Regions from separate parts of the Homo sapiens genome. Here region 1 is linked to region 2. Evidence: fine-mapped QTL for protein levels in blood plasma. A gene starts in region 2. The other region holds a variant in brackets. All regions are shown on one strand. Distances are from middle to middle.

The links. A credible set is the group of variants that fine-mapping cannot tell apart. PIP is the posterior inclusion probability: the model's chance that the variant is causal. Sun 2018 read protein levels with aptamers (SomaScan).
Region 1: its variant is the best candidate, but not a certain one, in a credible set for the plasma level of the SVEP1 protein (Sun 2018, PIP 0.61).

What each region holds. Positions count from the first base shown.
Region 1 is chr9:110,487,370-110,490,284 of GRCh38, reverse strand. SVEP1 (sushi, von Willebrand factor type A, EGF and pentraxin domain containing 1) reads left to right here. Exons shown (of 48, transcript NM_153366.4): 9 at 506-635. Among named protein-coding and RNA genes, the nearest start is that of SVEP1, 91 kb to the left of the region's middle. The variant C/T (reference allele first, on the strand shown) is at 1,629.
Region 2 is chr9:110,578,319-110,581,233 of GRCh38, reverse strand. It overlaps SVEP1 (sushi, von Willebrand factor type A, EGF and pentraxin domain containing 1), which reads left to right and starts at 1,493. Exons shown (of 48, transcript NM_153366.4): 1 at 1,493-2,221. The coding sequence starts at 1,691. RefSeq lists enhancers at 1,625-2,125, 2,126-2,626.

The DNA.
Region 1 (2,915 bases), 91 kb after region 2:
GCACTGATTTGATCTTTATAAACTATATGAATGTGTGAAATTATTACATGTACCTTGAAACTATGTACATCTATTATGCATCAGTAAAGAAAAGAAGAAGAAAAAATATGTTTAAATTATCTGTTCAAAACTGTTTACAATGGAAATGTTTGGGTCAAACTAATGTCCTTCAACAGATTTTTCTTAAATTATCTTATATTTATTCTACAGAACATTATGGAAACATTTAAGAGTCATCTTAAGTTTTAAGGACTACATAAGAGCATAAAAGATGTTTGAAGGTATTATGTTTAAAAAACAAGGAGAAATATTTCATATGTGTGCCAATTCTATAAATCATGTAAATAGAATAATCTGGAAAGAAATATGCCAGAAAGCTGTGCCTTTTTCCTTTCCTCTTTGTGAAATATTGTATCATTGTTAACATTACTAATAATATATAAATCAGAAAAGAATAAACGCACTTTTGACATTAACTTTCAAAATATTTGTGTATCTCCAATAGGTGTCAGTCCACGTTCATCCAGCTTTCACCCCACCTTACCTTTTCCCAATTGGAGATGTTGCTATCGTATACACGGCAACTGACCTATCCGGCAACCAGGCCAGCTGCATTTTCCATATCAAGGTTATTGGTAAGTGATATAGTTTGGTTGTTTCCCCATCCAAACGTCATCTTGAACTGTGGCTCCCATAATTCCCATGTGTCGTGGGAAGGACCCAGTGGGAGGTAATTGAATCATAGAGGTGGGTCTTTCCCATGCTGTCCTCATGATAGTGAATAAGTCTCAGAAGATCTGATGGTTTTATAAGGGGGAGTTCCCCTGCACGTGCTCTCTTGCCTGCCACCATGTAAGACGTGGCTTTGCTCCTTCTTTGCTTTCTGCCGTGATTGTGAGGCCTCCCCAGCCATATGGAACTGTGAGTCCATTAAAACTCTTTCCTTTATAAATTACTCAGTCTCGGGTATGTCTTTATTAGCAGCATGAGAACAGACTAATACAGTAAGTCTTCATTGAATCATTTGGGCAGGTTTATGAAAGCAATCCAGAACCCCAGAGACCACTTCTCCTTTATGATCAACAACTCCCTTGTCACTGATTCTTCCAACTGGCATTGAAACTTGCTCAAAGCACTCCCTGTTTGAAACCTACAAACCCTTTAACTATTACCACTTCTCTTTGATTTCTTCCCATATGAGCCCACATGAAAGTTCCCAATGCTTGCCATGTCTTTCTGCTTAATTGCCATTTATTCGGAGTCACCCAAATCTGGCTTCTATCCCCTTCACTCGTATAAACTACTGTCATCAAAGTCACCAATGATCTCTGGTGTTACTCTGCATACTTTTTGGTCCTAATTTTACATAATCTTTCCTCATATTTTACATTTATTTAATTTTTTTCAGAGACAGGGTCTCACTCCGTCCTCCAGACTGGAGTGAGTGCTGTGCCACAATCATAGCTCACTGCAGCCTCAAATTCCTAGGCTCAAGCAATCCTCCTGCCTTAGCCTTCCAAATAGCTGGGACTACAGGCATGTGCCACCACACCCAGCTAATTTGTTTTGTTTTTTTTTAATTTTTTTGTAGAGACAAGGTCTCACTGTGTTCCCAGACTGATCTCAAA[C/T]TCCTGGCCTCAAGTGATCCTCTCACGTTGGCCTCCCAAAATGCTGGGATTATAGGTGTGAGCCACCACACCCAGCTACGTTTTACATTATTAACCACACACTTGTTACCAAAACTTTTTCCTTCCCTTAGCTTCCTTGATGTTAGTCTTTCCCGTCTTTTTTTTCCCTCCATTATTTTTACCTAACCTTCTTTATCTCTTTTGTAGGCTTCTCTTCCTCAGGCTAATTCTCAAATGCTGATCTTCTCTAGGGTTTCAGCCCTGGTCTTCTCTATCTCTCTCTGTAGTTTTCCTGAGTGATTTTGTTAACCAACAACTCCCATATTCCTATTTCCAGTTCGAATCTCTTTTCTGGAATCCAAACTGGACTCTGAAAGCCTCCTGGACTTTCCCCATATTAATGTCTCACAGGCATTTCAAACTCACCTAAACCTAAATTATTTCCTAGCTCAGAAAAGGACACAGCCAACCACCTAGCTACCAAGCGAAAACCTTGGAATCATGCTTGACTCCCTGCCCTCTCACCAATATCCAAGAAGGTATCAGGTGCTGTTGGTTTCACCTACTTGATATCGCTGAAGTTTGTCCCATTCTCTCCATCCTCAGAACCACCGCTGCGGATCAGTCCTTTGAAATCTTTTGAGCCTGGTTTACCGTATCATCTCTCAATTGGTCTTCTGCTCATTACCAAAATAAAATACATGGAGAGGTAGGCTACATAGCAATCTGTAGTGGACAAGAGCATGGACTCTGAACCCAAGCTGGTTGGGTTCATGTTCATCTCCACCGCTTAAAGTCAAGGGGACCAGTTCCTGCTCTATACCTCAATTTCTTTATCCAAAAGTAAAAGTAATGAATGTATTACCTCATTGTGAGATTTTTAATTTGTGATAATATATAAACCACTTGATCTAGTGCCTACCATACTTTAAGCTCTGTGTGAAAGCTAGATGACAACATACTGACATTTTGCAACATTTATCTCAGGTCTATTTTTCATATGTTTATTTTAAAATTCACTATGTTAAATTCATTTTGTTTTAAAAATGTTACATAACTTATTGAAATAACTAACATATATTAAACTGGTTCCTTACCCTATACATTACAGGTTTTGGTAAAAGTAGATGAAAGAAATCCAGTAAAAATCAGACTATTTCACAATGCTTAGTTTTTAAAAATTCCTTTTTCAGTGTTGTTTTAAACATGAGCTTTACCATTTGCATGAAAAATATGTTGGATTCTCAAAAATCTGACACAGTGATTTTAGACTTGGAAATGTGGTTC
Region 2 (2,915 bases):
CAAACTGAGTCAAGGCTGTACAACTAATAAATGGCAGAGTCATGATTTCGTCCAGGAAAACTGATGCCAGAGCCCTAACATGTTACACAATACATTGTGATACTTGTCACTGAAAGTATTTTGTTAAATACAGACGGAGTTAAATCATTCACTATTAGAAACAGAGGAAACTGAGATCACTGAATTCCATCATGAAATAGATACTGATGCTGAGCCAAGGATTGGAAGTGACTCAGTTCAGGTGGTTTACATAACCGTAGGCTTACCTACACGGTGTTCCTGACTCCCAGCTGGAATCTTTTAACCAAAGGCCCCACCCTCATGCAAAGTGCACCTTTTCTTTACACGTGCGCTCTCCCCTTTGGAGGTCTTGCTTTGGAAAAACCACCCCAGGTAGCAACTTGTTTCAAAGCAGATATATGCCAGGTACCACTTAAAGCCAGGTGGATCTTATCTGTTGAAATAGATCAAGAACACATGAAAGGGGACTGGGGACCCCCTACTTACACTTCAGACTTCAGCACAAACTTTCTGTCCTCAGAGAAGGCTTCTCTGGCCTCTCCAAGGTCAAGTCTGTCTACCTAAGCTCTCCTTTATTTAGCATGGTCACTTGTAATTACATATATTTTGTATGTTAATATCTGGTTAATGGTCACCTCACTTGTTACCCTTTAAGTTCATTGAGGATAGAATCCCTGTCAATTTTTGTTCCTTATATTTGCAGTGCCTCACATAGTTCCTGGCACACAATGGGTATTCAAAAAATATTTGTTAAAATCAGGAAAGAATGAACAAACAGATGAATGAATAAATGCACGACTGAAGTACCATGACAAATCATTCCTGTGGAACGCATAAGGTTAGATGCAACTCCTTTATGGTGTGATCTGAGGGGGCCCTTAAGGGCTTAATCTGCACGCTCACACACACCACTGATTAGAAATCCCCATCAGGAAAATTGTACAATCATCTATTTGGCGAGGGCTTTGGGACACTGAATGGGGGAAAAGAAACACAAAAGGTGAGCAAGCAGTTTTCAAAGGATGCTTTCAACTCCCTGGCCAGTCCGCGTGTATGTTTTCGTCTACAAAGTGTTTCCAATTACTGTGGCACTCTCGGTATCTGGATCCATCTCCAGTGAATTCCTCTGCAGCTCCTGCCAGACATATGGGATCAATCAGGGCTTCGGCGCTGGTGCGCTTGCTGCGGGAATGTTGACAGCCTGACAGACGCGGGGTTCTGGTGTCATGGAATCTCCGAGCCTTTGGCTTGATCCCGGGAGGAGAATGAGAGGGGGAGGAGGGAGATAGAGTCACAGATACAGAAAGTAGACAGGAGCGGGGAGAGGGAGAGAGGGAGAGAAGGAGGGAAGCGGGAGATTTTTCTTGACTGCCCCCTTTCCTTCAAACATTTTATAGGCTTCAGGGAGAGAGAGGAGGAGGAGAGAGGGAAGAAAAAAAGAGGAGAGCGAGAGGGGTAGAGAGCGCGCGCCGTTCCCTCCGGAGTTCCCGAGCTGCTGAGGAGTCTGGATTGTGTCTGTCCCCAGTGTCAGATGAAAGGGCGCTGAGGCTCTTGGCCGCTGCCCCGCGCCCAGCTCCGCGCACGCCCCTCTGCGAGTCCGGCCGCCCAGCGCCTCTTCCCGCCCGAGCCGCCGCCTGCGCTCCGGGGCAGCCGCTCTGTCTCCAGCGCGATGTGGCCTCGCCTGGCCTTTTGTTGCTGGGGTCTGGCGCTCGTTTCGGGCTGGGCGACCTTTCAGCAGATGTCCCCGTCGCGCAATTTCAGCTTCCGCCTCTTCCCCGAGACCGCGCCCGGGGCCCCCGGGAGTATCCCCGCGCCGCCCGCTCCTGGCGACGAAGCGGCGGGGAGCAGAGTGGAGCGGCTGGGCCAGGCGTTCCGGCGACGCGTGCGGCTGCTGCGGGAGCTCAGCGAGCGCCTGGAGCTTGTCTTCCTGGTGGATGATTCGTCCAGCGTGGGCGAAGTCAACTTCCGCAGCGAGCTCATGTTCGTCCGCAAGCTGCTGTCCGACTTCCCCGTGGTGCCCACGGCCACGCGCGTGGCCATCGTGACCTTCTCGTCCAAGAACTACGTGGTGCCGCGCGTCGATTACATCTCCACCCGCCGCGCGCGCCAGCACAAGTGCGCGCTGCTCCTCCAAGAGATCCCTGCCATCTCCTACCGAGGTGGCGGCACCTACACCAAGGGCGCCTTCCAGCAAGCCGCGGTAAGGCGCCCGCCCCTCCCGACCCGGGCCCTAGTCCCCGGGCCCTTCGACCCACCGCTGCCTGCCCGTCTCTATCCCGGGGTTCAGTCCTGGGCAAGGCATAACCACCCCAAGTCAAGCGTCCCCATCCACAAAACCAGAGTCATCGCTACCCGCCTATTATTGTTGTGGAGGTTCCAATGGGATAATGGATTTTAAAACGCTTAGAGGGATGTCAGGCTCCTTAGATAGTCGGCTTCGAGGACCCTGTTAGGAAGGGATCCTTGAAACGCTAATCACATTCACGTTTGTAGGAGCAGACGGTATCCAAGCTGAAACAGGTGAGCATGGTTTACAAAGTGTTTCTAAAGGTAGGACATGGAGTGATATAAACCTAACCCCAATTCTTTTTAAAGTTATGTTATGCTTTCAATGTAAGATTCGTGCCCTTCCTATTTTTGCTCCAATCCTTTATTAGATTTTTAATATCTGGAAGAGGAAGTCAGTTTGGGATGTCGGACTTTTGTAAAGTGTGTCTGTTTTTCTGATTACAAATTAATCCATATTCAGTGGGGGAAAAAGAAACATATAGAAATATCTAACACATAATAGCAAGCCAGTGTTTGTGGACTGAATTAAACAAAAAGTAGGGAGAGGAAAAAAAAACCCTAAAATTTCATCACTTTAAAAAAGCCACTGTTTGCAGGTTGTTGAA